Linked DNA regions of Homo sapiens. The protein of the gene in region 6 interacts with the protein of the main gene of each other region in a biochemical or structural test. Each region holds a gene or a part of one and is shown on either strand. Other genes may lie near its edges. The genes, in order: ARVCF, AMOTL1, ARHGEF26, PLEKHH2, RSRC2, FRMPD3 and EFNB2.

Region 1 (4,606 bases), on a different chromosome or scaffold from region 6:
AACCGTGCAGTGGTGGGGCTTGTGCCTTGTGAGAGCTGAGGGACAGGTAGGGTCACCGTGTCTCTGTGAGGCCCTGTGGCCTCAGGAGTGTTAGTGCCACCTGCCACATGGCAGGGAATGGGTGGGACGGGACAGCACTGCCACACCCTCCTCTGCACCTCCTCCCCTTTGGGGCTCCTTCCTAGCTGGAAACCAGTACTGGGTGTCCCCCGGAACCACTCACGGCTTTTGTTACTTCCTACTGTTCTGCATGAGCTGGGACATGAGGAGAGTGGGACAGGTCCTGAGCGTGGCCACCTGGGGAGGTAGGCAGGCGGTGCATATGGTCAGCACAGATTGGCCAATCGCACCCCACAGGCACCCTGTGGAACCTGTCATCCTATGAGCCCCTGAAGATGGTCATCATTGACCATGGCCTGCAGACGCTGACCCACGAGGTGATCGTGCCCCACTCAGGATGGGAGCGTGAGCCCAACGAGGACTCCAAGCCACGGGACGCCGAGTGGACAACTGTCTTCAAGAACACGTCGGGCTGCCTGAGGTGTGGACCAGACCTGGTGCTAAAGCCCACATGCACACCAGGCCCCGTCCTCGTGGTCCCAGATAGTGTGGAAGATGGCGGCGAGCTTAGGAGCGCCAGAGCTTAGGAGCTTCAGAGCTGTGGCACAAGTCCTGTGGATGAGAAGTGGGGCCTGATGGAGCTGTCCTCACCCCCAAGTGGTGTCCCAGTCTTCCCAGGGGCACCCTCTGGAGGGGTCTCTGTGGTACCGTAGCCCTGCCCAGCTCTCACCTACCTTCCCATCACTTGACAGCCAGAGGGGGAGCTGGGACCTTCCTGTTCATCTGCCTGGGAGGCTCATCCCAGCCACCTGTGACCTCTGCCCTTCCCCTCCTACCCCTGGGAGGCCCTGCTGACCCCACAGAGTCCTGGGTCCCCACAGTCCTGCTTGTCCATCAGGGTGTTCCCGCGCAGCCCTGCAGGCTCTTGACCTTGGGGTAAGGTGGGGCCCAGAGCTGCCATTGGGGTGGCGAGGGACCCAGAATTGCCCTTGCACAGGTTCAGGTCTCTCTGAGAGTGCACCTGTCCCTTTCCAGGTCAGCTGGGAGGCAGGGAAACCCTGTCTTTCCCTGCCCAGCTATCCCCAGCCAAGATAGTTGTCTGCCAGGGCTCCCCTCCTGAGGCCTGGGGGCAGTTAGCTTCTCCCCCTTCACTGAGCTCCAGACTGTGGGGTCCTTTCCCATTAGTGCTAGGAGGGCAGCAGCAGGGCCTATTTTGCAGATGAAGACAAGCCCACAAGGCCAGGGTGGAGCCAGGGAGTTTCTGGTAGCCAGGGGTCACCTGGCCTGCTCTTGGCCACACAGGAATGTGAGCTCCGATGGTGCTGAGGCCCGGCGGCGACTCCGGGAGTGTGAAGGGCTGGTGGACGCGCTCCTGCATGCCCTGCAGTCGGCTGTGGGCCGGAAGGACACTGACAACAAGGTGGGCAGGGACGGTCACAGCCTCATACCAAGGGCTGGAGAGACGATCATGCAGGTCCCAGGAGGCTGGAACTGTGGGAGCAGCACAGGGGAATGGGCTTGTGGGTCTGGGGTGGCGTTCTGGGTGTGGCCCGCCTCGCAGTGACCACACTGAAGTGGGCACCGTCCTGCAGGCAGAAGGTGTGCCGTGAGGGCAGAGGCTTCCTCCCATGGACCCTTCCTGGCGGTTACCGCCCTTTTGCTCCCCTCCACTGAGGACTCCCTGTTCCTTTGCTCCCGGTGCCCTCATGCACACCAGCTGTGGCCAGTCTTTCCTGAGGGCCAGCCCTGTGCCTAGGGTGCCCTGCCCCACCCACTCACCTCTCCCTGCAGTCGGTGGAGAACTGCGTGTGCATCATGCGGAACCTGTCCTACCACGTGCACAAGGAGGTGCCCGGGGCCGACAGGTACCAGGAGGCCGAGCCCGGGCCCCTGGGCAGTGCTGTAGGCTCCCAGCGCCGGAGGCGGGATGATGCCAGCTGCTTTGGAGGCAAGAAGGCCAAAGGTGGGTGGGGCGGACTGGGGTATCATCTCTACCATCTCAACTCCTGCCCCAGCGGAAGGCTCTCTGTACACCCACAGCAGCCCATCATGGAGGCTAGAGGACACCTGGTCAGCCCCCAACAGGCAGGCAGGGAAGCCAGGAGTCAAGGAGGCTGGACTGCCCTGGGTCACATGGTTGATGGGACCCAGGTCCAACCTTCCCCATCTACACTGTGGGACCCCCAGGGAGTACACAAGGGAAACCAACCAATGCCCAGACCCAGTCTTTCTACTCCGGGGAGAGTTCCACTTGCCCATGAGTTGGGAAGGAGCCATGGCTGCTGCCTGCTCACTGTTCACAGAATAGCTGTAGACTGCCACCAACCTGTGGGGCAGCCCCCCATCTGCCTGGGCAAGATGCCCTGCACACCTTCTCTACTGCACTAGCAGGGTGTAGGTTCCCAGGACCTCCCCAGCAGCTGTGGGGGACCTGTACGCCACCTGCCCCTGCCCCACTGACCCCAGGCCTCCCTCTTCTTGTACCCCTGGTGGGTGCTCAGTGCCCAGAAGTGATGGGATGAGGTTCCACATGCTGCCTGCTTGATCCAGGGTGTGCAGTGGGAACCTGAGGCTTCCGGGAGGGCATGGGGGGGTGATGAGTGCTGCCTGTTCAGGCTCCTCTCCTCTCTCCTCTGCTTCCTCCGGCCTCCCAGAGGAGTGGTTCCACCAAGGTGAGTCCCTTTTTATCCTGCTCTCCAGGCCTGGCGTGTGCAGTGGGTACCTGGGAAGAGGCGAGCACGTTCCAGCCCCAGGGCCCTGCCCCACCCCTGGCTTCATCACTCGGGCTGCCATCTTTATGACAGTGGCAGGTGGGAAGGCCACGGGGCTCATTCTGTAACCTCAGACTTGCCTACCTGGGCAGAGTTGGGCAGAGCCAAGAGTGGGCAGGGCCCGGGGGTACTTATCTCTAGGGGCACCAAGGAGCAGTCTGTTTCTCTGATAGAATGGGGCATCATGTGGCTCGGAGGGATACAAGGGTCCCATGAGGGTGAGCAGGGCAGGGACCCCAGGTCATCTGGCTCCACTCTGCTGCCTTCTGAAGGGGTAGAAGCATCATCTGACATGGGGAGAGTGGTTGACAGTGGGCTCACTGTCACAGACGTGTGCAAGCCAGGGCTACACAAATGTTAGGTGGGCTGCTGTGGGGTTTCTCCTGGCTAGTAGATCCTGGGACAATGTCCTGACCCCAGCTGGGGGAGTTTCCCCCTAGTTCTGCCTTACTGTGTGACCCAAGTGAGTCTTGTCCTGGTCAGCCTTCAGTTTCTTGGCTTGTATCCACCTACCATCCAGCCAGGGCTCCTGGCTTCCCTCAGTCTACATACCTGGCAGTTGCAAGGGAGCCACCGGGAGGGTCTGTGGTACAGCTCCCAGCACCTGGTGGGAGATGAGTCCTAGGGGCAGGGCTGGGACATCCCCAGGCCCCACTGCCACCAACTCCTACCCCTAGGCTAAACTGTCTGCCCAAACTCTGACAACGGTGCTCCACTCCCACAGGTGCCCAGGCCTGGACATGGGGGTGCCTTTTGGGGCCTGGGTAGGAGAGAACTGTGCCCAACTCTCCTGATACACCCATTCCCCATATGGGGTCTGCCTCACCTCCCACCACCTTTCCCTTCCAGGAAAGAAGGATGGTGAGATGGACCGGAACTTTGACACGCTAGACCTGCCCAAGCGAACTGAGGCCGCCAAAGGTGAGTGGGCTGAGATGAAGCCAGCTCCACTGGGGGATGTCTGGGCTCAGGATTGCCCTGGTAGTGAAGCTTTGAGCCATCAAGCAGGCCTGGAGGGCCTCAGGGAACAGATGGGGAAACAGGCCCCTAGGTGCAGGATTTCCTGGAGGGTGATTCAGCACCAGGACACCTGCTGAGGGTTTAGAATGGGAGGAAGTGCCATGGGTCATGTCAGGCAAGGTTGGGGGAGACAGGCACAGAGAGGCCGAGGGCTTGCTCGGCCTCACGGTGCGTAAGAGGTGGGAAGGTTTGGAGGGACGCCTCCAGTGGAGGCAGGGCCTCCTGTGTTAGCCACAAAGCTGAGTTATCTGAGGGGGCTGGGAGCCAGGCGGGCATGCTCACATCCAGGTTCAGAGGCTGGGCCAGACGAACACCTGCAGGGACAGGGCAGTGCCTATTGGGCTGTATGCTGGGATCTGGCTTGAGAGAGAGGTCTGTCCTGGTGGGGCCTAGCCAGTTGGAAGAGCCTGCATGTCACCAGGGTGGAGGGCTCCAGCCGCAGGAGGGCTGTGGGGGAGTATTACAGGCAGAGCAGGGCTGATGCAGATACCCCAGCGGGGAGTGTGCTTGGAGTGTGTTGGAGCAGAAAGCCCAGCAGGGCAGGAGTAGAGGGAGCATGGGGCATGAGGACTGGCGAGGGTGTGATGAAATGTCACTGGGTGGGTACAGGGGAGATCGAGGTAGTACCCAAGCCAGGCTGAAGCCCCAGTTTGGAGACAGGCAAGCTTGGAAGGCTGTTTTGACCCCTCATTTCTGGAGCACTGGGCAGAGCAGCAGGACGGCGCCTCAGTTGCCCGGGAACTTGGAGTGGTTGC
Region 2 (4,606 bases), on a different chromosome or scaffold from region 6:
AGTAGCAGTGTAAATGTGTGACCTTGGAGGAATGACACAGGGGCTTCCACGTGTCATTGTTGTTTCAGCGTCTGTGGGTTTATCACGTTAGATGTCTGTTTGGGATCCTGGGCCCTGAGGGTATGAATGGGACTAGAAAGTAAAATTCAGAAGTCGGGAAATGAATGAGTCCAAAGCATACACCCTGTAGTGGGCAGAGGAGGGAGGGTAGGGAGCGAGGAGAACCAGACCCAGTCACAATCACCCACTCACAGGATTCTAGGCCCAGCCTTGTTCTTATCCTCCGTGCAAGGGGAAATGACTCTTACCCCAGAGAACAGGAGTTCTGTGGGATTTACCCAGTCCCACTGTTCCCCTTCTCTGCCTTATTTGGAGTCTTGGATGGGCAGAGGGAGCCCCTTTCCATCCCCGTCACCCCTCCTTCTTTGCTTTTACACATATTTATTGAGCATCTAATAATTCTGTGAGCAACTACCCTCCCCATTACAGACTACCCCTTCTGGGTGGGGGAATAGGTTCAGAGAACCTCAGATAGCTCCAATCTTAATGTTCTTTTCAAAGAAAACCTCTGTCATTTCAGAATTGCTTTTTTCTTTTCAGTAAGAGAAAAAAGGAAAATGAAACATTTTTGAGAAAGGTACACATTTTGAGCTCTTATTGACTAGGTGCTAAATGGCCACAGTCAAATTGGTAAAAATGACTATTTCCAGCCATTAGTTTTGTGACTTTTCAACCACAGATGCATGCTTTATATTTATAATCAATGATTTTTAAACAAAGAAAATAACTTCTGTAAACCAACTGGTTTTCCCATCTTTATGCATCTTGATGGTGTTGGTCAGAATTTTTAGAGAGTCAGCTTATCTTTTATGTGTGCAGAAGGTTTTGAAAATTTTTAAAAATTTCAAAGCAATGTAATATTTCTTTCAGAGTTTTATATATTTACTATCTAAGTTGCTTTCCTCTAATTGTGTTTGCTCTCCTTACTTGGCAATGTAAACATGAATTTTCAGATTTGTTTCCAGCTCCATGTAAAGTCTCCAAAAGTAAATTTGTTGAAAATGTTTCTAGCCACTAATTTCTATATTGATGATTTTGTGCACCATAGTGTGAATTTATAATTTTGCAAATATGTTTAAAGCATTTTGTTTGCTTTCTACATCATTTGGCCTTTAGTGTATTTTCAATGACACTTTGCACTTTTCTGAGCCACATTCTCACATATGCCCTCTGGTTTGTTTTTATCTTTACTCATCTTTGCTGAGACCTTCTTCTTAAAGACATATGAAACTTGCAGGAGTATAGAGCGATGGTTAGGGGCATGGACTTTGGAGTCATAAATACCTGAGTTAGAATCCATTTTCACTATTCACTAACTGAGTATTCTTGGAAATGTCACCTAACCCTGGTTTCTTCATCTAGAAATTGAGGATAATAATACCTTGTGCACAAGTTGTGAGAACTAAATGAGAGACCATGTGTACCGTGCCCTACCCAGTCCCTGTATGAAGTAAATGCTCATTAATGTTGATAGCTGTCATTAAAGGGGCCTCTATTTTTCTGTTTTGGGCTATTCTGTAAAAAAAAAAAAAAAAGCTTTAAAGTTTTCAGGCGGGGCGCGGTGGCTCACGTCTGTAATCCCAGCACTCTGGGAGGCTGAGGCGGGTGAATCACCTGAGGTCAGGAGTTTGAGACCAGCCTGACCAACGTGGTGAAACACCATTTCTACTAAAAATACAAAATTAGCCAGATGTGGTGACGCATGTCTGTAATCCCAGCTACTTGGAAGGCTGAGACAAGAGAATCGCTTGAACTCAGGAGGTGGAGGTTGCAGTGAGCTGAGATCACGCCACTGCACTCCAGTCTGGGCAACAAGAATGAAACTCCATCTCAAAAAAAAAAAAGTTTTTCAGTATGATTGTACATTGGAATATGAAGTTAAAAGATGTGAAATACTTGGCTACATCATGTCTTACTAATTAAATACTCATGTAGTCAGAGCCATTATTGTGCCTTTCATCTTGAGCTATATCACTTAGATGATGCAGTGATCTTATTTTTACTAATCATTGTTAGTTAGTAGTAATTAAATTGTCAAAACCAGTGGCAGGAATAGTTATCTGTGACTGGTTGTTTATAGTCAGACAGATGCTTGCAGTGAAACTGCTTCTTGATCTTCTCGTGTCTGCCCTTGCCCTCACTGCACCCACCTCACCTGAACTTGTCAAGGACAGTGTCTGCCTTCTTCTTTCTGTCCTGGACCCTGGCATGCCTATTACATTGTCCTGACCTGCATCCCAGGCAGGGCCCATAAAACAAGAAGTGAGACAGAATACAACATGAAGGAAGACTTCAGCTTGGAGCCTCACTCTCTGAGAGGACCAGTCTCAGTTTTAAGTATTTACTGAGCCCCCATTTTACTGTAAAATACTGAAGTAGGCATTCTATGCTGTATGGATGATAAACAGAAATAAAACCTAAACTCTGATTGGAAAAGTGAGGTATAGGACAAGCATGAAAAAGTACAAGCATGGAAACACCAACAAATACAATAATAATAATAATAATAATAATAATAGTGTCCATAAGTCAGTAGATTAAATCTCTAGGTGCCCATTTTACATATTCATAACATGCCATGTAGCTACATACATAATGTAGTCAGAAGGGGGAGGGGACTTGATTTTTGAATTTTATTTTGTTTTCCTTAGATGCTGCTTAATTCTATCTAGTTAAGGAAGAGAATTGGACAGAATTCAGGAGAGGAAAAGTGGGTGAAGGAGTTTGTGGAGTTTTAGCACGGCACCCTGTGATCACCTCTCCACAAGCATTTACACCTTTCTCTGTATGGGCATCAGATGAGATTGATAACTGAGCTGGGGAAATTGGGAGGGAAAGGCTTCATGAGCCAATGCGAGATGCAGAGCTGATCTCTGTTCCAGCATGAACACCAGCCTCTCCATTCTGTGTCTGTTTGCATTGAGACAAAGCAAGAAGGTTTCCTATGATCAAACGCATATCCTTGTGTTGCCAGGGACACCACGATCATCAACCACTCACGGAATGGCAGCTACGGAGAGAGCTCGCTGGAGGCCCACATCTGGCAAGAGGAGGAGGAGGTGGTGCAGGCCAACAGAAGGTGTCAGGACATGGAATACACGTAAGGGACGACTATGTGTGACGTGTGGGGCCCGCTGCATTCACACTCCAGGCCTTCCAGAACAGATTGCTTCTCTGTCCTGTTCTGAAAGGCTGTGAGCATGAGGTCTCCAAAAACTCTCCTCCCCCATGCTGTGCCATGGAGAGAAGGAAAAGGTTCCAACCTAAGCACGTGGTTCCACTCAGCAATGGATCTGGTGCCGGAGTTCTCTGGGGGAAATTGCGTGTCACCTGCCGGTTTTAAGATGCAGGCTGAGTCTAGTGACAGAAGAATTTAGATGTCTGTGTTATTTCTTGGTGTCTATCTCTATGACATTATGAGCTGAAAGGGGGAAACATTATATCCCAAAGATTCAGAGTTTTTGAGCCAGAATTTATATATTCCAGTCCAAAATAAAGAACATATTTAGCTAATGCACTCTTCTGATGGGCTACACAAAATTTCCAGCAGACTTTTTGACATAATAAAACTAGCCTGTCCCCCTTCACTACCTAAGGGCTTGTGGAACCCTGGGAGCCCTAGGCCTCTTATTTTGCAGATGTGAAAATAGGGCTGAGTAGTTGAGCCATTGATAGATAGGCTCAGTGAGTTACTATCAAAGTTGTGAAAATAACTCAGCATTCTTCCAGAAAAATCATCTTCTACCAGAGAACCTGTTCATCTTGGTTCTTTTTTCTTAGAAAATAGAGAAATTGACTTTAGCTGAAAGCTCACCCTGTTTGAGGCTTTAGAGTTTTTATGCTTCCCTATCCCCTACCTACCCCCGGCCCCCACCGCCAATGCTAGACCCTCTAAATATGGTCCCCAGCCGACTTCGGTCCAGGAATGTGGCCACGGTCATTCTAACTGTACCTCGCTGAAGTCCCAGTCTCCCAAGGTGCCAGAGAAGGTGTACTCTTTTGACATATGACAAAAGACCTGTCTTAACAATTTGGAGATTATCAACATTTGAAGACTCGTACTGTGCTTCATCCTGTATCCCTAAATTACAATTAAAGTCTTTGGGACAGCCTGAGATAAATGTTTCAAGTTTTTCTAGCCAAGTGGCTTTTTATGGAGACTGTTTTGTTTTGTTTTACAGTATTAAAAATCTCCATGCCAAAATCATAGAGAAAGATGCTATGATTAAGGTCCTGCAGCAGCGATCTCGTAAAGATGCCGGGAAGACAGACTCCTCCAGCCTACGTCCTGCCCGCTCCGTTCCATCCATAGCAGCAGCTACTGGGACACACTCTCGCCAGACCTCTCTTACCAGCAGCCAGCTGGCTGAGGAAAAGAAGGAAGAGAAGACCTGGAAGGGGAGCATAGGTGAGCCCCACACCTCTGTCAGACCATGATTGGAAAAGCAAGACCAGACAGCTTCTCTGCCACTCATGGGACACGGAAATGTCCCTGAATAGTTCCTGGTCTCAGTTTACTCATCTGTGAAGTGGGGAGGGAAATCAG
Region 3 (3,500 bases), on a different chromosome or scaffold from region 6:
GGGTGGGACTCACTCAATTGAAAGTCTCAAAAAGCTGCTCCTTTTAGTGATAGCAACAAGGAGTGTCTTGTTCTATCCTCTGGAGTCCCTGTGAGGGGTGGCCATGTCTAAGAGATGCTATTAGCATCCAGGCAGCATGCCACAGAAGTGAAAGATTTCATCTGGACTTCTGGAAACTGGCTGTAGGGCAAAGCCACTGCTGATACTGGCCACTCAGTGCCAGAGACGGTGTCTGTGTACAGGAAGATCTGCCTCACTGGCTCCAAGTTGCTCTAAATTGCTCCAGAAGACAGCAGTATAGGCTATGTATAATTTGTTTCAGTATGGCATAGAGAGACACAAATGGATCATTTTAGATTTCTCTTGGTGAGCAACACTTCTATTCATGAGGTATTTTGTTTTCGATTGGCTTTGTACTTTGCAAATTCCACTTGAGCCTGTGTAAAAAATAGATCTTATTCCCAATAAAGACATCATAGCAAAGATACAAGTGTTTGCCTGGGAATTATTTTACATGAAGTTGTGCTTTGCTTATTTCTTACAGAACTATTGTAAAGCCCTTTGTCCTGTATTAGAGAGAGAGAGAGAGAGAGAGGTTTTAAAAGCAAGACAGGAGCCTTGGCTTCTATATAAATTGTGCATATTACTACTTGACACACCATCTTGATCAAGGCCCAGCCTCATCTTAATCTTTGAAAATGCCTGTCTTTCAAGATACCACAGTTTCCACCCTTCCTGCCTTCCATCATTATTTTGTAAACACCTGCTGCGTAACACCACCTCTTTGATTTCAGACTGCCTGGGTTAGGTGCTTAACATACCAGACTTGCTTTGTCCTCTGAAAAAAATAGAAATAATTTTGGTAATATTTTCTTTTCAAGATTGTTGTAAAAATTAGATTAGATGATACTTGCAATTGTTTAGTACCATACCTGACACATAGGTGCTTCAGAATATTATTTAGAACAAGGCCCAATTCCTGCCATTCTGGAGTTTATAGCCTGGTAAGAGAAGCAGATGAGTCAGTAAATGATTGGGCTCAATATGTGATGAGTTATATAATTCATTCATTAGCAGACATATACTGAGCCCCTGTTACGTGTTGGGCAATGTTGTAGAGATAATGCAGTGAACCAAATGGATAAGCTGCCTGCTTTTATGAGGCTTACTGTTGACCAGCAATATAATAGAATTGTGCAGAGGGGTGCCCTAGAAACAGGATTATCAGACTGGGATGGAGATGGAAGGATTGGTTTATGTATCAGAGGAGCCCCCACTGGAGGAAGTGAGCCTTGTGTTTTCAGCATTGAGTGGATATATGTTGAGCAAAAGAAGCCAAATACAAAAGCATACATACTAAAGGATTTCATTTGCAAAAAGTACAAAAGAAGCATGGTAATAGAAATTCCATGGTAATGGAAAACAAGAGCAGTCACCTTTGGACAGAGGTTATTGATTGGAAAGGGTCAGAATGGAAATGCCTGGCGCATCTGTGTCTTGGTAAGTAAACACAGAGCTGTACACGCTTATGATTAACTCAGTTTATGTTATGTATGTTAAGAAATTTTAATGGCAATAATGAGTGGGCTTATCTACGCAAAAACAGGGAAGGAATAGGAAAGGCTGGGGCAAGGGTGCTATGTTCCAATGCGGTAAGTCATCCTCTCTGCCTGGGTTGGAAGGATGCATATGGGGATGAAGGTGGGGTGACAGCGACAAGCATCTGTAGATTCAGGCTGCTATGAGAGAAGAGTTTTTTTCCCCAGGTGTTGGTCATGAAGGCATTTTTTCTTAAGAATGTAGAGTGGCACAGTAGAAACTGACTTTGGTTTGAATTGCTTGCCTCTGAACTTCTGTCTGATCTTAGCATCCTTCAGATGGGCTTTTGAGAGGATTACATGGAATAGTGGATGTTGAGTGCAGTGTCTGACATGTAGCATGTGTTTAATAAATACATAAGAGAGTTAAAAGTATGTGTGTGGCGGGGCAGTATTTAATTAATTGTAATTTTAATACTTGGTGCTCAAAATAAAAAACCAGGGTGACTGCATTATGTAGAGAAGTGCTTGCTTATCTGAAACTTTTGATCCTTTAGTTGAATAATTATTTTTATGTAATTATAGCTTAATATTATATTAAAAGTATTGGTCATTTTTCCTGTGCTCATTAAACCATTTTAAGCATTTGGGAACAGTGTAAAAGTGGCCAAAGAATTTCTATTTCAGTAAGACTCATATTTGGCAAAATTAGTTGTATGAGGGATGAGACAACTAAATATGTCAAGTTTCTCAAGTTTACGGAAAGGTTTGAGTGTGTGGGAAGGGAAGTGGGGAGGAAGCAGAGAAATTAGTAGGATTTTTAAAAAATGAAACTTAACTGCTTTTGAAATGTTAAACATCAAATTATGGGTATGCTAAATACCTTTTGGAGTTATAATGTGTTCGTGTAATCAGCTCCTTATTAACTTTTAAACTGTCATATGGGAAGTTCCTTTTAATCAATAATGAGCCAAGTTCATTCAGACTCTTTTGACAATGATGACTAGTCTCCTGCTTATTTTAGACTTTCCAGCTTATCACTTTTAAACTACTCTCACCCTGTTTTACCATACCTCTCTAGAGAATCTCTTGTTTTCTGGGAGTGCCTTTGCATTGGCTGCCTAGAAAACACTCCATTCTGTGTTTTTACACCTTGAGTCTCTCAGTTGGATCTGCCCTCTGTTTTAGGAGCGAGCGAGCCCGCTGGATAACTGCCCTGGGACACAGCAGCGGGAAGCCGCCTGCAGACCGAACCTGTAAGTTCTCTCAAGGGGAAGCCCACTTGGGAACATGGATGGGCTCTGCCCCCTGCTGGACGCCGGGTTACTAACGAGTTATATTGCCACAATACTTGCCTAAGTTTCCTCCAGGGCTTCCTTCTGCTTTACACCAAAAATGTATGATCCTTGCTTTGGAAGTCAGGGGGTCTGAATTCAAATCCAAGGTGCATTTCTTTGTTGTGTAAACGTGTCAAATCATTGCTTAGCATTGCAGAGCCTATTTAACCATCTGCAAGTCAGTTACACCATTATATACAACATGGGGTTATTGTGAAGATTAAGTTAAATAATCTATGTTAAAAGCCCTACTTGAACTGTAAAGCCCTTAAATTTTTAGCTATTATCAGTGGGCAACAGTTGATCATGTTTAAACCTTCTACATACTGACAGTCTGGATTTAAGCTGAAAAGTATTTTTAATCTAAAAGAAAATTACCTAAGAATTCTTTTTGACCTTCTAAGAAAGTGTGTTTCACTATTCTAGAGAATTAGAAACTGGCGCAGTGAAGGGGGGTGTTGTATGCCTATTAGCTTCCTAACTTTGATGCTGTGGTTTCTTAGATTATTACAGTTGCAAGGTCAAATCCAAAGAATTAGAACAAAACATTGTTATCCTGGAACACTCAAAAATTATAGCTTTAAGCTTAGATTAAAAGCCAAAATGACTGGTTTGAAAGTTCCCG
Region 4 (4,606 bases), on a different chromosome or scaffold from region 6:
ACTGGTGTATAGGTTTTTTGGTTTGTTTGTTTTTACTTTAAGTCACTGATTTTATAATATCTTCAAGTTATCCATTTAAAAACTAAAAGGCACTCAGAAAATATAACCCCTTGAAAAAAAGTGTGTGTGTGTTTGTTTTTTAAGCAATTATAAGGGGAAACAGTGACTATAACACAAAAGAATAGTTTGGTTTCCAGAAAATTTTCAGTGATCTTCTGATTATAGCCACAGGATTAGACCTGCCAGGTGAATTTAGTAATTCCTGCTCACCAGATTAAACAAAAAAGAGAATAAAATTGTATTAAATAATTAGACACATGAAATATGATAAAAAATGTAAATTTCGGGTAAATAAATGAACACATATAGATATCATAGTTTGAATTTAAACTATGTGAAAAGTGCTAAGATGCTATATAAATGACATTATAGGAAATTATAGAAATTGTTAAAGAAGCCTTAGTGAAAGTGAACTTAAACTTTGGTAATTAAAGTTCCCACCTTAATGATTTCTTACAGATTTTTATTTTACACAGGAAACAATCTTCTTAACACTTTTAAAAAATAATCATTTCATGAATGTAACCATGATCACAATTTAGTCATGGTATCAAGATTTTTCTCATACACAATAAACGACCTGTCTTATCTTGTTTTAAAAGGTTAAATTATAATCATAGCTGTATTTGTAAAATGACTGTTCATGACATAGTATTAGGAAGAATGTTTCCTGGGTAAGAGAAAAATCAGATTAAGATATCATTACTTTCTGTTTACGGTACACTGAGCAATGGAAACAGTTGACTTAATGCAAAACTTGAGCGTTTAAACTTACCATGGAGTTGTATTCTAAGAGGCTTAAACCATCCTCATGTACAGCCAGCCACAAGAAAGTACTTCCAAGTGATGATGGAGTTATGGGCTATGAAGAGGTGAAAATACACTATATTATAAATACTAAGCAAAATTACAGGAATATTTTTCAGTCTAAATGTCATGTAACATTTGCCATTAAACAACAATAATAACAACAAAAATTTATTAAAAATCTCGCCTAGGAAAGAGGCAGGGTGGTATACCGGAGCTAAGAGTGAATTCGATATTAGGAGACCTAGCTTTGAGACCCAAACCTGCCATATATTAATGTATGCATTTGGATAAACTACTGAATCTGTTTGAGGCTCAATTTCCTCATCTTTAGCATAGGAACAATAATGTTTATATTTTACTTTTCTTCTGCGTTAAGACGTTAATAGTCAACAAGTTTTTAGGGTTTCTATGATGACCAAAATCCTAATGAAGCAAAATATACTGATATGCTTGATAAGTTGTGTAGTGCTATTACAAGGTAAAAGATTATTATTATAATTGCACACCTTTCCTGAAAGTTTATTAAATCTGATATTCAATGTGTAATAAAAACACAATAACAAGAAAATATGAAACTGTGTAATCAATAGTAATGAGAAATATGAAAATTTCCACCGAATTTTTTATTGTAAAAGCTACGAAATTGACTGGGTGTTGTGGCTCTCGCCTGTAATCCTAGCACCTTGGGAAGCCGAGGTGGGTGGATCATCTGAGGCCAGGAGTTCGAGACCAGCCTGTGCAACATGACGAAACCCCATCTCTGCCAAAGACACAAAAATCAGCTGGGCATGGTGGTGCACGCCTGTAATCCGATCTACTTGGGAGGCTGAGACAGGAGAACAGCTGGAACCTGGGAGGCGCAGGCTGCAGTGAGCTGAGATAGTGCCACTGCACTCCAGCCTGTGTGACAGAGTGAGACTTCATCTAAAAAAAAAAAAAAAAAAAGCTAAAAGCTACTCCTGGTTCTCATAGAAAAAAAAAGCTATGAAATTATATTAATAAAAAGAATCTCCTACCACTAGAACCCAACTGAAACCCATGAATGTTTTTGAGCAATTAATGATGCTTGTTTGGTTCCATTAACAAATGAAATCCTAAAAAAAATCTTAACTATTTCCCTTAAATTTTACAAAACAATGTCAAGACTATAGATATAAAACTGGAATGAATGTTGGGTTATTTTATATAATAAAACTTGCTAGCATCTCATATATACAAAACCCTGAGTTAGAAACTGTCTACTGAGGGCTGATTTGCAAAGGATAGGGAGAATTCAATTCAAAAGGATGCCCTTCAACTCTAGTGTCCACTGACAGGTGAATGGATAAACAAAATGTGGTATATATATACCTACAGTGGAATGTTATTCTGCCTCAAAAGGGAAGGAAATTTTGACACATGTTACAACATGGATGAACCTTGAAGACATTACACTAAGTGAAATAAGCCAATAACAAAAGCACAAATATTATATGATTTCTCTTACCTGAAGTTCCTAAAGTAGTCAAATGCATAGAGACAGAAAGTAGAGTGGCAGTTGCCAGGGCTGGGAGGAGGAGGGAGGACTGGGGAGTTAGGTACAGTTTCAGTTTGGGAAAATAAAAAAGTGTTTAGATGAATGGTGGTGACAGCAACACAACAATGAGAATGTACTTAATGCCACAGAACTATACACTTAAAAATGGTTACAATGGGCCAGATGCGGTGGCTCACGCCTGTAATCCCAGCACTTTGGGAGGCCGAGGCGGGTGGATCACTTCAGATCAGGAGTTCGAGACTAGTCTGGCCAAAATGGTGAAACCCTGTCTCTACCAAAAATATAAAAATTAGCTGAGCGTGGTGGTGTGCGCCTGTAATCCCAGCTACTTGGAAGGCTGAAGCGTGAGAATCGCTTGAACCTGGGAGGCGGAGGTTGCAGTGAGTCAAGATTGCACCACTGCACTCCAGTCTGGGTGACAGAGTGAGACTCCGTCTCAAAAAAAAAAAAAAAAAAAAAGGTTAAAGGGTAAATTTCATTATGTGTATTTTACCACACACAGAAAACAGGATGCCATGAAGCAACAAAGGAGGTGTCGCTTGTTATAAAGAAAGAAAAGTGAGCAAAAAAGATGCTTGTCACGTAATTTGAAAAGCAATATTATTATTTAATAATATTTTGTGCCAGCAAGCACATTTTATCAGAACAGAAAAGGGTATTTAATATTACTTCCAATGCTGAAGTTAGAATTAAAATCCATGCTGCTCTACAGTTCAAATCTATTCCTTGTAATTTTAAAAAGTAACGTTCAACTTCCCGTAAGTACATTAATTTTATAGATGTTTAAGAATACTAACTTTATCATCTTTTTCTTAATTAGTATACAGCTTTCAGTTCCACTAGAAAAAAATTAATTCTCACCTATCAATAATATAGTCACTCATAGAATCAGAGTTAGAAGATACCTTAGATTTTACTTTTCTAATCTAAGTATTTCATTAACAGATGAGGAAAAGTGAGGTCCAGAGAGGTAACCTGACTTGCCCAAAGTTGCACAGCTATTCAGCAATATTTATTAAGTGATAATTATTAATTACGTGCAAAGCACTACAGTAGGTACAAGAGGAAGATTTTAGGATCAGTGAGTTTATAGTTTCAAGGAGCATGCAATTTAATAGTGAGTATAAAACAAACACACAGAAAAATATAACACAAGGCAAGATGTATCTTAAGAGCCTGAGAAAGTACAAAGAGACATGTTTCAACAGAAAGAAAAGGAATCAAAAGGCATAATTTTTCCCTTGGGGAAAGGGCTGGCCATCCCTGGGCAGGGTGGGTCTCCTTCCTCAGTGTTCCTGCAGCAGTCTGTTCATGTGACTCATAGTGATATTTGCCATACAGTGGTTTGTTTATAGGCCTGTTGTTACAAAGTAAAATAGTCCTGGAAGTTCATGTACAATCCATCTGAAACAATAGGTTATGTATCCCTAGAGCTTAGCTCAATGTTTAGCAGACAGAACTTAGTAAATACTAATGAGCAAATGAGTGACAGAGTAAACATGTGCATGGATGAATGAATGAACAGAAGAATGCAGAGTTCAGCTGTGGTTTAGGACTCATGATTCACCTAATGAGTCCAAGAAATGATTTAGGGTGGGAAAAGTTGGGCAGAGAGGAAAAGATAGAGAAGCTTTTCTGCCCTTTCTCTAGTGTCTCTTCATTGTTTTCTTTACATTATTGGATATTTCTTCATTTTTTACAAAAGCCAAGGATACTAAGTCTGGGGTAAATCTGGTCAACTATGTACACAAAGGTTTTCATTATGCATCTCTCTCCCATTCTTTCTTACTTTTGCAAGAAACAACTTGGCACCAAAGAATGGCCACTTCCTGGCTACTGTCAAATAAATGCGCACACAGTCAGCAGCACTGTGTCCCCGGAGGGCCATCCATCTGGTTGAAAGTCGCTGGCAAAGCTGCCTAAAAAAAAAGAAAAGAACAAAAACAAAAACACTAAAGCAAAAACATAAACAGTGTGTCATAGTCTTAAGATAAAACTCTCCTTGAGCCAATCCTAAGCATAACTGTGATCCCTAGGCATAACCCAGGTAAAGATTTTGTGACTCTCATCACACCACTGTCCATCACTTGTCCTTTCTGGAATATTCCTTTCACCAAATTCTCATACTATTCGTGTTTTCGGCATGAACTAGGTACCCACAGCAGGTCCATTTTTAAAATCTGAATATCTACCATCAAA
Region 5 (4,606 bases), on a different chromosome or scaffold from region 6:
AAAGAAATATAACAAGCTATAATTTTATTCCCTTTTATGAAGCACATATGCATGGAAGGCATAACATAGACTTGACTTTGTCCTTGAGAATAAAAGTTTGTAAATTAGCAGTAACAATAAAATGTAGGTCGCAGGCTTGGCAAGGTGGCTCATGCCTGTAATCCTAGCACTTTGGGAGGCCAAGGTGGGAAGACTGCTTGAGGCCAGCAGTTCGAGACCAGCTTGGCCAACATGGCAAAACCCGTCTCTATTAAAAAGAAAACAAAAATTAGCTGGGTGTGGTGATGCGCATCAGTAATCCCAGCTTCTTGGGAGGCTGAGGCACGAGAATTGCCTGAACCCAGAAGGCAGAGGTTGCAGTGAGCCAAGATCATGCTCCTGCACTCCAGCCTGGGCAACAGAGCAAGACTCCGTCTCAAAAATAAATAAATAAATAAATAAATAAATAAATAAATAAATAAATAAATAAAATAAAATAAAAATAAAAAATAAAAAAAGTAGGTCACAGATCTGAAATGTATTTCCTAAACAGTTTTAAATCCTGACCTTTAAGCCAAAAAAGAAACCAATATAAAAGGTCTATACATGGTAGTTTCTTAAGAAAAAAATTCTCCAGATTTCAAGGTAGTAAATAATCTCATATTCTGAAATTAAAGAACTACATTTAAAACTTTATCTGAAAGATCACCAAGTAATCTATATATCAATGACATTTTGGATGCTATTAACGGCTTCACTTTTAAAAAAATCCAAAAACACAAACAGAATAGACTTATGGCATTCAAGTAAATAAGAGCTTAAAAAATATTTGTCAGAGTTAATGAAATTACAATCTAGCATATACTAAATCCAATTTTATAGTAAATTATTTCCATACTAGTTTCAGAAAGAAGATACGTGTGACTACAACTGGTTGCATTAAAATGGCCATTGAAGATTTGGAATTAATACCATTCACTAAGGTGAATGGAAAGAAGGGGTGAGCTCACACTTTTGCTGCTGTTCAGCTGCAGTTTCTGTCAGGCTGGGTTCCCAGGGAAGCACATCAGGTTACACTGTGTTACCAGCCTGGGCAACATAGGGAGACCCCGTCTTCTCTACAAAAAATACAAAAATTAGCCAGGCATGCCTGTGGTCCCAACTACTTGAGAGGCTGAGGTGGGAGGATTGCTTGGGCCCAGGAATTCAAGTATGCAGTGAGCCGTCATCATGTGCCACTGCACTCCAGCCTGGGTGGGACCCTGTCTCAAAAAACAAAACACCTTAATTTTGTAACGAGAGAAAAAAAAATCAAAACCTAAAAAGTCTATTTTTCAAAATATGGGAAATACTGCAAACAAGTGCTTGGATTTTATTTTACTTTTTGCCTCTCTATGAGGCAGTTCTTTGAATAGTTTTGCAGATTTCAATATATAGTCGTGCTGTGTGTGGTTTCACCATTACTCATCTTTGAAACAGCAGAAAATTTATTTTTGTGTGTGTGTGTGTGTGTGTTTTTTTTTTTTGAGACTGAGTCTCGCTCTATCGCCCAGGCTGGAGTGCAGTGGTGCGATCTTGGCTTACTGCAACCTCTGCCTCATGGGTTCAAGCGATTCTCGTGCCTCAGCCTCCAGAGTAGCTGGGATTACAGGCGCCTGCCACCACGCCCAGCTAATTTTTGTATTTTTAGTAGAGATGGGGTTTCACCATGTTGGCCAGGCTGGTCTCCCAACTCCTGACCTCAAGTGATCCGCCCGCCTCGGCCTCCCAAAATGCCGGGATTACAGGTGTGACCGATTGCACCCGGCCGAAACAGCAGAAAATTAAAAAAAAAAAAAAAAAGTTCTCCCATAGTTACCAGGAATAAAACTTACAAGATCAAATAAATTAGCTTATAATGTATTATCTGTTAATTGCCATCTTCAAAATAATAATATTGACAAAATTTTACTTACTGTTTCAGGTATTTTGTCTATTTGAGGGAGAAAAACAAAAAGTAAAGGAAAAGTCATCTTAGATGAGAAAATAATAGTTCTTGAACCAGATTTAAGACTCAAAAAAAAAAAGTTTCAAATGCAAACTGAAAATATTTGGGAGTCTAAATTTGAGAAAAATGAAATCAGTTAAATCATGAAGGAAAAAACAGAAATTGTAGACATCTCAATCTTATAGTTGTGCAAATGTTTAGGATGAGAATTAAACTATTTACATAGTTCTAGATCACAAATATGCCACCATATTACTAAAGTATGTGAATCATTCTCTTACTGAAAGAATTCATCTTATCCACACAATTGAGCATTTATTTAAAGGCGAACTGGAACAAATGAATTAAGAAATATACACACCTTCTAGCTAAAGCTTCCTGTGCATCCATTGCTGTGTTTCTGCCTCTGAAGGGAGGTGGACTTGGAGTCCGGCTTAAACTTCTGCTAAATCTTCTCGGCTTTTCAATTCTCTTCTTTCTATCTCTGTAGTAAATCGTATTTCATATGTCAAATTATGGCCAAGTCATAACTATTTTGTTAATAAGAAATCAATTAGTTCAAACAAAAATCCCAACGATACAAAAACATTTAGTTTGAGATGCAAAAGATTTAAAACATCAGTGTTACAGCTGAACTCATTGGAAATAACATTTGTTTCCAACTCCCTCATCCCTTTTTAAGAGACAGGGTCTCACCATGTTGCCCAGGCTGGCCTCCAGTGATCCTCCTGCCTTAGCCTCCAGAGTACACAGGTCTACAAGCATGCCCCACCGCATCTGGCTGTTTCCAATCTTTTGCATAGTATATCCAATGTTGGAAAAGCTAGCCTTATACATTAGTCATTTTGTGCTCTTGTAGGTCAATATGTATACCACAGGAATCATTCCTACATATTTTCATCTACAGTGAATTTGTAGATGTTTTTCAAAAATAAAAAGTTATTAACCACTAAAAATTAGGTCTGGCTGGGTGCTGTGGCTCATGCCTGTAATCCCAGAACTTTGGGAAGCTCAGGCGGACAGATGACCTGAGGTCAGGAGTTCGAGACCTGCCTGGCCAACATGGTGAAACCCCGTCTCTACAAAAACACAAAATTTAGCCGTGCGTGATGCTGGGTGCCTGTAATCCCAGCTACTCGGGAGGCTGAGGCAGGAAAATCGCTTGAACCCAGGAGGCAGAGGTTGCAGTGAGCCAAGATTGTGCCATCGCACTCCAGCCTGGGCGACAGAGTGAGACTCTGTCTCAAAACAAACAAAAAAACTAGATGTCAGTGACCAAAAAAGCACTTAAAAAAAAATTTCTTAATTGGTAAGGTTCAAAGTAGTAAACTACTATAAACTAGAACCACTGAGTAAAAATTCATATTGATTTAAAGATCAAGTGATAAATCATAAAAACCAAGTTACTGTATTAAGTACAGGTCCCTTTTTAAATGTATGTTTCAATCTTTCATACACTGACCTAAGTTGCAATCAATTTACAAAAGTCAGTATACTACTGTCATATGTAAACAAGCAGAGAATAACGCATTCATTGAAGAATATTTATAATTAGTTTTCCTCCTGTGCTCTTTATTGTACACCTCCTATCTCAACAAAGCCTCCTCCCACCAATCAAGATAAATCTAAATTGTGTTCATTTACAAACAAAATCTGAGGTAGTTTGTACAATACAGTGGGTTAAGCACATGCATGGAATTTGCATTTAGATATATCTGAAACCTGCTCCTGGCTCTAGCACTTAATAATGATACTGTTTTGGAATTCTGGGGCAAATTTCTTAAACGTCTTTAAGCACGACACACTTACCTTTCAACATGGTTCTTCTGAGAACTAGATGAGCTAATAACATGCAAGGAGTTCTAGCATACAGCATATGGTAAGTATGCAAAAGGAGATTTTAGTTATTTGTGATAATAAAATTAATACAACAAATCCAGTGTTGAACACAACTGAATTTGTTTGTTACGACAGGATTCACTCCTGTCACCCAGACTGGAGTGCAACAGCATGATCTTGGCTCACTGCAACCTCTGCCTTCTGGGCTCAAGTGATTATCCCACCTCAGCCTCCCAAGTAGCTGGGATCATAGGTGTGGGTCATCACCCCAGGCTAATTTTCATATCTTTTGTAGACATGGGGTTTCACCATATTGCCCAGGCTGGTCTTGAACTCCTGGGCTCAAAAAATCTGCTCGCCTCGTTGTGATTACAGGTGTAAACCACGACACCTAGCCAACAACTGCATTTTAATAGGCCTATTCATACCTGCACTTCGCAAGAGATTTATCAATCACGAGAATACCTGTGAATGCTATTCAAGTGGTTAGGTGTGTTCTTCATACGTTAGGTAATGACTAAAATAATTTTACCATAATCTATAAATAGAATTGTGACTCACAATTTTAATACTCTCTTACTGAGGAAGATAAACAGACTCTCTGAGGGTCCTATTAAATTTTATTCAGGATGATGGTCACCTACCGACTCCTACTCCTTGTCCTACTCCTGCTTCTAGTCCTATGCCTGTGTCTTGATCTTGAGCGGGAACGAGACCTGATCCGCCGTTTTCTTTCCCTGCTTCTGGATCTCGATTTCTTCCTCTCTCTGCTTCTGGATCTCGATTTCTTCCGCTCCCTAC
Region 6 (3,582 bases):
CTCGGGGGGCGAGTGTCTGGGAGCTCCCAATTACAGGAAACTGATGCGCCGCTACAGTATCAGTGAGCTGGACCAGGGTGACAGGGCCTCGCTGACCTCGGATGTCTACCCACATCCTCCCCTGGGCATGCTGCCCAGGGAGGCCAAGGAGGTAGAGGCAAGCCTCCCCATAGCCTTGGGTCCCAAAAGCAGGTCTCTGGAGTCACCGACGCTGGGAGACCCCTCCTACGTCCAGGTTGCCCCAGAGACCAAAGGCCCCAGACAGATGGCCGTGTTCTCACTGCCCGAGGAGGTGTACCGGAAGCCTGCCGAGCTAGACGAGGACAGTGAGAGCAGCAAGTGCTGCTCCATCCGCTACTGCTTCTACTACCGCAAGTGTGACATGGCAGATGATGCCAGTGATGGCAAGGATGAGCTCTCCTACTCTATCCCCATGAAGATCCTGCCTGGCATGAAGCTGGACGAGCAGGTGGTGCCTGTGGTGAGCAGGACCCTGCAGGTGCTGGATGCTGCTACCTGCAGCAGCAGCAGCCCTGAGGCCTCCCGCACTCAGGAGATTGACCTCCGTGTGTCCACCTTCGAGGGGAGCCTGGCCAAGATCAATGCCCTGCGGGCCCATGCCTATGGCCTCCCTGATGGCTTCCTGGCTGCCCGGCTGGACACCAACGAGCTGCTGACAGTCCTGCGGCAGTGTGTGGCCAGCCCCGAGGCCCGTGCCCCCAAGCCCTATGTGTCTCAGATCTCCGAGTATAAGCTTGAGCTAGCTCTCAAGTTCAAGGAGCTCCGGGCCTCCTGCCGCCGTGTGGCCAATGTGGACAAGAGCCCAACTCACATGCTGGCAGCCATCACGGGCAGCTTCCAGGTGCTGAGCAGCCTCATTGAGACCTTCGTGCGGCTGGTGTTCATTGTGCGCTCCGAGGCCCAGCGCCAAGAGCTGCTGGCCAAGGTAGAAGAGGTGGTGAGGAACTACACCTTCCTGCTGCGTGCAGCTGAGGAGTCCACAGCCCGTAACCTTAACCAGCAGCAGCAGCAACAACAACAGCAGCAGCAGCAACAACAACAGCAGCAGCAACAACAACAGCAGCAGCAGCAGCAGCAGGTGGCAGCAGCTGCAGGGGCAGCCACAGAGCATCCACCAGGCTCCCCAACTTCGGCGACTGTTATGAGCACATTCACCCACTCCTTAAAAACCCTTATTAAGTAGGGCATCTGCCCACACCTGTCCCCCTTCCCCAACCATGGCCCCAGGTTTGAGCTTTGTGGTCCTTGCATCTTGTGGTGAGTGTGTGTGTGTCTGCTGGGCCAGTCAGGGTCCAAGAGCCCATCAGTCTCCGGGGAGTGGAAACTCTCTTGATTGAGGCTCTCTCTTAAGGGCTGCAGGCTTAGCTGCCGCCCTGGGTGTCCTCACCCCTTCCCTGGCCTCTGGGCCTCACTGTGAGGGCAAAGGCCCCTCTTCACTCTGCTCACAGCAGAGCTGTATTTTATCTCTTCTCTGGGGCTGAGAGGTGACATCAGGCTCACTTCCTGCTCAATCCGTGTTGGGCGCTGGGGGAGCCAGGGCCTGAAGCAAGCGGACCCTCAGGCTTTGAGCTCCTCGTGGCATCGGCTCCCCTGCTGGGAGCAGTGGCAGTAGCAGCAGGCCACATTGCCGTGCCGAGGGGAGAGGGCGCTCAGTCCAGATGTCCCCATCCACCTTGGGCTCACACTCACCTGGTAGATGCCACCCTGAGGGCCTGTGCCTGGGTGAGATGTCTGCAGAAAACAGCCACACTAGGCTGTTTGCAGCGGCCCAACTGGCCGGCAGCCTGGTGAGCCCTCACCTCCAGGTCCAGTAGCTCCACACCAGCCATCCCCAAAGTGCCCTGCCCCTCACTGATGGGCAGGGCAGCTCAGTCCACTAGGGAGCAAGCATCTGGGATCACCCCACTCATTTTGGGTAAGGTACCTGATGAAAACGTCTGCCTGGGGAGACCCAGTGCAGGCCTAGGAGCCCGCCTAGCCCGGCCCAGCCCAGCTCAGGGGCTGTTGCTGCAGGCATGAGGCTTCTCTCTCAACATCTCTCTACCAGACAGACTGTCCTTGGGAGTTTGACTTAGCTGTGGATCGGGGAGGGGGGTGGGGGGAGGGGGGAAAGGGGTAGGGGTGGGGGGTGTTGATGACTATATCTTAAACTTCTGGAAGCTAGCGTGATATGTTAATCCTGAGTATATGCTTTTGGCTGTGTATTGACCCTGTGGATTTGTCTCTCTAAGAAAAGAAGCTGAGCGCCTTACCCGGTGCAGTCCTGCACCTTTCTCCCTCTCTGGAGCCATCTGGAAGGGAATTCACACTGTTTAACATCCACCTTGACACACACCTCCTATTGCCACCACCGCTGCCACCACCACCGCCACCACCGCTGCCAACCCTCCCCCCACGCCCCCCACCCCCGCAACCTTCCTGGGAGTGAAGACACGGAGTCCCTACCAACTGTCCCACTGTAGGGAACAAAGAAAGCCAATGTTTCTTCTGTATAGATTGCTTCTCGTCCGCCTCTCCATATCTCCCCATTTCCCACACCCTTGTGCCCTGTGTCTGCCTCTGTTTCATCACTGTGTCAGAGGCCCATGTGAAATCTTTCATTCTGATGTGAGTTTTATAAAGATGTACACTGTGCTTAATCCCTGCCCATCCTTGGTAGCCCCTAGTGCAATAAAGTCTCCCTGAGTGGTGAGTTCTCCCGGCAAGGAGGAGGGGAGTTTCTTCTGCAGAATCCAGCCCCTCACTTCCTTGCTTCTCCTCCCCCAGGACCAAGTTGTTGAATGGGCCAGAGATGCAGCCAGTGGGGAATCCTTTTCCCCTCAGCCACTGCAAGCTGGAGTGCTGATATGGTCTTCTTTTTCTCCCAACTTCGCCACTCAGCCCCTGCCTGTGTCATTCCACCGCCATCCTTCACCTCTCCCTCAGCCTCATGGAGAGGAAACATTTTCTAATGTCTGTATATAGTATATATACTACATAAAATATATAAATTATATATATACTAATTTATGTCTTGTTTTTCAAACAAGAATGATTAAATCTATTCATCTTACTATCCCAATAAGTCTTTGCGGTGCCTCTTTGTGGGTGTCCTTGTGTCCTTGAATTGTTGGTTGGTGGTGGCCCTTTGTGTGCTCATCCTGGGCCCCTGCTCTTATGTACTGGGCACTGGTGGGTGATGAGAGCTAAGGACCCTGTTCCTCCCACCTCCCCAACACACAGGGGATCCCCTTTGCTCCTCTTTGAAGCCTACTGTTTCTCATGGGAGTTGGAAATTGTCTACCTCTTTCTCTTGACCACGAGGCTTCTGGCTCACCTGGCCCCCATGGCTGTGACCTCAGAGCTGAAGGGCTGGAGGTGGTGTGGGGGGTTGTGTGGAGAAACACAGTGTGCTCTGTGCCTAGTGTATCAGATGGCCTGGGAATTAGGATTTTAGGCCACTCCTCAGACTGGGGTTGGGAAATGGGGCCTCTCCCTCTGAACTGTGCCTTCTTGCTCTCAGAGTGCAGCCTGACTGCCTCGCAGTTTAGGCTATGGAATCCCTTGCAACAGCCTCTGGCC
Region 7 (3,500 bases), on a different chromosome or scaffold from region 6:
GATGACTGGATAATGTGTGCCTGGAAAAGGTCTCCCTTGCAGCTGAATGCTAGCTCCAGAGATCAGAAAGATTTCTTCCTGTAGGAGCCATAGGAAAGAGTCCTCTCTAAGTTTTTGAGAATGCATACAACCCCCTGATGACAGGGGGTCGCTTTCCTTGGGGAAGTTTTATATTTATTTCCAGAGGAAAGTTTGAATCGGTAAATATGATGTGGCAGGAAGGTAATCAAATGCATTGAAGTTTCACATCAGTTCCTATGAACTGTGGAACAATTCATTTGTAATGAAGCCGCCATCAGTAATTAGATTTGTTTCATTCAGAGGTCAGCTTTTTTAGCAGGTGGTCGACACAGGGAGCATGCAGCAGCTGTTTGGATACAGGGTCCAGAAAACCCTTTGTAAATTCAGCGTCTCCGTAACTACTTTAATCACATTGTCGGCTCTCCCGTCCCTGACTGTATGTAATAATGGAAAGATGTCCTGCGTGCTGAAACAGTAGCTGCCCTGTTAGGTTATTCACATTGCTTTGATACGTTCTGGTAGAGTTGGGTCCGTTGTAGCCATTTTGGTTGTTTAAAGTTTTGGTTTTTTTTTTGTTTTTTTTTTAATTCAGCAGAGAACAGTAATGCCTAGCTTCCGTTTTTAACTTAACACTTCAGTAGAACATTTTCTTCCAAGAGGGAGATTTTGGCCTAAGTAAAGTAGTGGGCTCTTTTTTAAAAAAAAATTAATTTTACTTTAATGTGAGCAAATCTGTATTGGTATGGTGTTCTGCAATGCATTACACTGACTTTGAAAATTTCGAGTACTAATGCCTTATGTCTGGGGTTACCATTCCCTGTGCATCACATACTAGTTAGTTAACATAGCATTTTGCTTTTCCCATGTAATTTTTTCCCTATATAATACTGGATTCCTGATACTAATTGACTTGATACAAAAGAATGGCTGGATGATATCCAGATAACGTATAATACATGGGCTTCACCACAATCAGGCTCTGAATAAATACAGACCTGTCAGAGATTGATAAAATAAACTACAATGGATAGTGCTGTTTAAACAGTCCATTCAATAACATATATAAGCCAGCCTGCCTTCCATTGTGTCTGAAATTCTTATTTTTGTAGGTAAACAAATGCACATTCAGCACTGATTGAATAGCCCCTTGAACTATGCTCCACAGTTTGCGTTTGGGTTAATCTTGTCGGTTTTAATATAGAGAGAAAAAAGCTCAAAGCACCAGGGGTGGAATTGTTAGTGCTTTCACATCCACATTCCTCACATTTTGTCAGGATGATAAACTGTAGGTAATGGACTGTCGTTGTTCTGCAGGACAACTGAGCCAGGCAGAGCACAAAGACTAAGCTAAAGCGATACCTCACAACATGCTTGGTAGCCTTCTTTTCAGATGAGAATTTATTTGAGAATCATGTGTCTAGGGACTGCACATCTTAACCTCAACAGTTACAGCTTCAAGCCCCAGAAACAGGAGCTGGAGGTTAAGATGATTTGCTAAGCACCTGGTTCTAAATCTTTTACAAAGCATAAGCTGTTGACGCTGGTTCTGCCGACGCAAAGACATGCAGATGACTCCAACATTTCCAGAGGCTTCTGACTTAAGCTAAAGTGTGTGGACAGGTGAATTCGCCATGGGCCTGGAGACCAGCTTGCTAAAAACTATGTGTTTGAATGGTTCCTCCAGACAGAGTCAGCTGAAGAACAATTGGTGGATTTATATTAAAACCTCTTGTCTGTAAACTTACTGAGGTGCATCCTTCGGTTGGTGGATCAGTGAGATAATTGCCTTCAGATGGACATTGCAACTGGAGCAACTAAATCCTTGCTGTCTTTCCTTCCTCTGAAATCTTCCAGGTAGCTCCCGAGAGCTTCAGTATGACACCAAACTTCGGGCGACGTTTTAGAGTGCGTTCACCTAATGGGAAACTATTCGAGATCCCAGCGTGACTGCAGTAATGCGTCATAGGAATGGGAGTGGCAGGGGAAAAGGAAATACAGATTGTAGACCCTAATAAAAAAATTTTTAGGAAAGATATTTCTTTAACGTTTTATGAGAACTTCATTCTTAAAATACTTAATTGCAAATTAGACAAATAGAAGTGCTCTTCTAAGGAAGGTGATTAAACTGGTCCTCCTATCAGCCTAATCTCTGCCTGCCTTTGCTGCTGACATAAAGAACCTGTTTTTCAGGTCACTTAATATACATCTACATAGATTTGCTTATGAGCTCACCCTTTGTGTAGCGGAGTAGAGCCTTAAAGAGGAGTGCTCAACTGTTTAAAATATTTTGATTAAAATATGCAGAACCCATAGAACTATAAGCTTCTAGTCAGGAATTAGCTCTTTCAGGGAACAGCTCCCCCCTTCTTTTTAAGGGGGGAATTAGAAGGAGGCTGGGGGAGGAATATAAGAACAGCAAAGAAGGAAGGATAGCAAATGGGACATGTTCCGAACAGCTTGGAAAAACTCCTGTGGCTTCATTGTCTCTATAAAGCCAAAGAATACAAAGACATAAGCAATTCAGCCCTTCTCCCATGATGGAAGATGTAAACCGTTGACATGCCTCCCCTGTTTAACTTGTTTAATTCTCATTTTAAATTCAGCACGATACTAGCCGTGTGAACTCTGAAGATTTCTTTAGTAATCCATTTTGTAGTTCCGAATCAAAAACAAAGTGAAAGGGTCTGACACAATTTGCTTTTATTTTTAGGCAAATCAACCCTGGTCATAGTTAATAAGGGGATTACAACTCAGACTAGGTCTTTACAGATGTGATGTAAATCAAGGGCAGAGTATAAAGAAACTGATCCCTTTTGATTGAAGTATAGTAAAAAGGCATAGAGAAACTAGCAGCAGTAATCTGATTGTATGGCAATAAAACCACCATTTTCTGTCTTTCAGATAAAAATAATGTGGTAAATCCATGCAGTTCATAAGATGTAAAGGCAGATAAAGGGTGAAGCCATGGCAACATATAGATTAGCTTGATGTTAGAAATGACACGTCTCTGAAAAGGGCGCGGGACGAAGGCCCTTGCCTCCAGGCTGTTGGGCATTATGTGAGAACCACACAGACTTGGAAACTGGGATTAGGAAGTATGAAAGCTCTACTTGTGGTCTGGGATGGCTGAGGCAGTAAAGAAAAGCTGCTCAGTTCTTGCTCATTGGTGGTGGATAATATGGCAAAGGTAGATTTCATTGACTGCCTTTTTTATAGATTGAGATTGGGGCTGATTAAAACTTCAGATCACTGCAGTTGTTAGGGCCTGGGAGATTTTCCTTTTTAACTCCTGGCCTAACAGCAGCAGCCGTTCTGTAGGATTAACTGCACTTCGCGGTCGTTGCCTTAATCTATTTGGGCTTCAGGCAGGGACATGCTGGGAAGGAACAGAGACCAGAGGGGATAGGTAGGGCTGGGGTTATCTGAAAAGAAAACAGAGACCTTTTGATTTCAGCCATCTTTTCAGACCCAGCTCCCTC

What was found.
Region 1: the proteins of FRMPD3 (region 6) and ARVCF interact in a test that uses a peptide from one of them, tested with the Homo sapiens proteins (one large-scale study listed by IntAct).
Region 2: the proteins of FRMPD3 (region 6) and AMOTL1 interact in a test that uses a peptide from one of them, tested with the Homo sapiens proteins (one large-scale study listed by IntAct).
Region 3: the proteins of FRMPD3 (region 6) and ARHGEF26 interact in a test that uses a peptide from one of them, tested with the Homo sapiens proteins (one large-scale study listed by IntAct).
Region 4: the proteins of FRMPD3 (region 6) and PLEKHH2 interact in a test that uses a peptide from one of them, tested with the Homo sapiens proteins (one large-scale study listed by IntAct).
Region 5: the proteins of FRMPD3 (region 6) and RSRC2 interact in a test that uses a peptide from one of them, tested with the Homo sapiens proteins (one large-scale study listed by IntAct).
Region 7: the proteins of FRMPD3 (region 6) and EFNB2 interact in a test that uses a peptide from one of them, tested with the Homo sapiens proteins (one large-scale study listed by IntAct).

What each region holds. Positions count from the first base shown.
Region 1 is NC_000022.11:19,974,832-19,979,437, reverse strand, and holds part of ARVCF (splicing regulator ARVCF), read left to right. Parts: exon of another isoform or gene 1-46; intron 47-357; coding exon 358-541; intron 542-1,362; coding exon 1,363-1,480; intron 1,481-1,851; coding exon 1,852-2,023; intron 2,024-2,714; coding exon 2,715-2,732; intron 2,733-2,760; coding exon of another isoform or gene 2,761-2,861; exon of another isoform or gene 2,862-2,870; intron 2,871-3,680; coding exon 3,681-3,752; intron 3,753-4,606. UniProt on the Homo sapiens protein: Contributes to the regulation of alternative splicing of pre-mRNAs.
Region 2 is NC_000011.10:94,861,701-94,866,306, forward strand, and holds part of AMOTL1 (angiomotin-like protein 1), read left to right. Parts: intron 1-3,034; coding exon 3,035-3,160; intron 3,161-4,241; coding exon 4,242-4,468; intron 4,469-4,606. UniProt on the Homo sapiens protein: Inhibits the Wnt/beta-catenin signaling pathway, probably by recruiting CTNNB1 to recycling endosomes and hence preventing its translocation to the nucleus.
Region 3 is NC_000003.12:154,250,390-154,253,889, forward strand, and holds part of ARHGEF26 (rho guanine nucleotide exchange factor 26), read left to right. Parts: exon of another isoform or gene 1-838; intron 839-932; exon of another isoform or gene 933-2,726; coding exon 2,727-2,794; exon of another isoform or gene 2,795-3,500. UniProt on the Homo sapiens protein: Activates RhoG GTPase by promoting the exchange of GDP by GTP. Required for the formation of membrane ruffles during macropinocytosis. Required for the formation of cup-like structures during trans-endothelial migration of leukocytes.
Region 4 is NC_000002.12:43,758,620-43,763,225, reverse strand, and holds part of PLEKHH2 (pleckstrin homology domain-containing family H member 2), read right to left. Parts: intron 4,327-4,606; coding exon 4,197-4,326; intron 923-4,196; coding exon 836-922; intron 1-835. UniProt on the Homo sapiens protein: In the kidney glomerulus may play a role in linking podocyte foot processes to the glomerular basement membrane. May be involved in stabilization of F-actin by attenuating its depolymerization. Can recruit TGFB1I1 from focal adhesions to podocyte lamellipodia.
Region 5 is NC_000012.12:122,512,778-122,517,383, forward strand, and holds part of RSRC2 (arginine/serine-rich coiled-coil protein 2), read right to left. Parts: coding exon 4,450-4,606; intron 2,451-4,449; coding exon 2,328-2,450; intron 1,952-2,327; coding exon of another isoform or gene 1,939-1,951; exon of another isoform or gene 1,935-1,938; intron 1,098-1,934; exon of another isoform or gene 990-1,097; intron 1-989.
Region 6 is NC_000023.11:107,602,170-107,605,751, forward strand, and holds the end of FRMPD3 (FERM and PDZ domain-containing protein 3), read left to right. Parts: coding exon 1-1,204; 3' UTR 1,205-3,082; downstream 3,083-3,582.
Region 7 is NC_000013.11:106,529,163-106,532,662, reverse strand, and holds part of EFNB2 (ephrin-B2 isoform 1 precursor), read left to right. Parts: intron 1-607; exon of another isoform or gene 608-3,500. UniProt on the Homo sapiens protein: Cell surface transmembrane ligand for Eph receptors, a family of receptor tyrosine kinases which are crucial for migration, repulsion and adhesion during neuronal, vascular and epithelial development.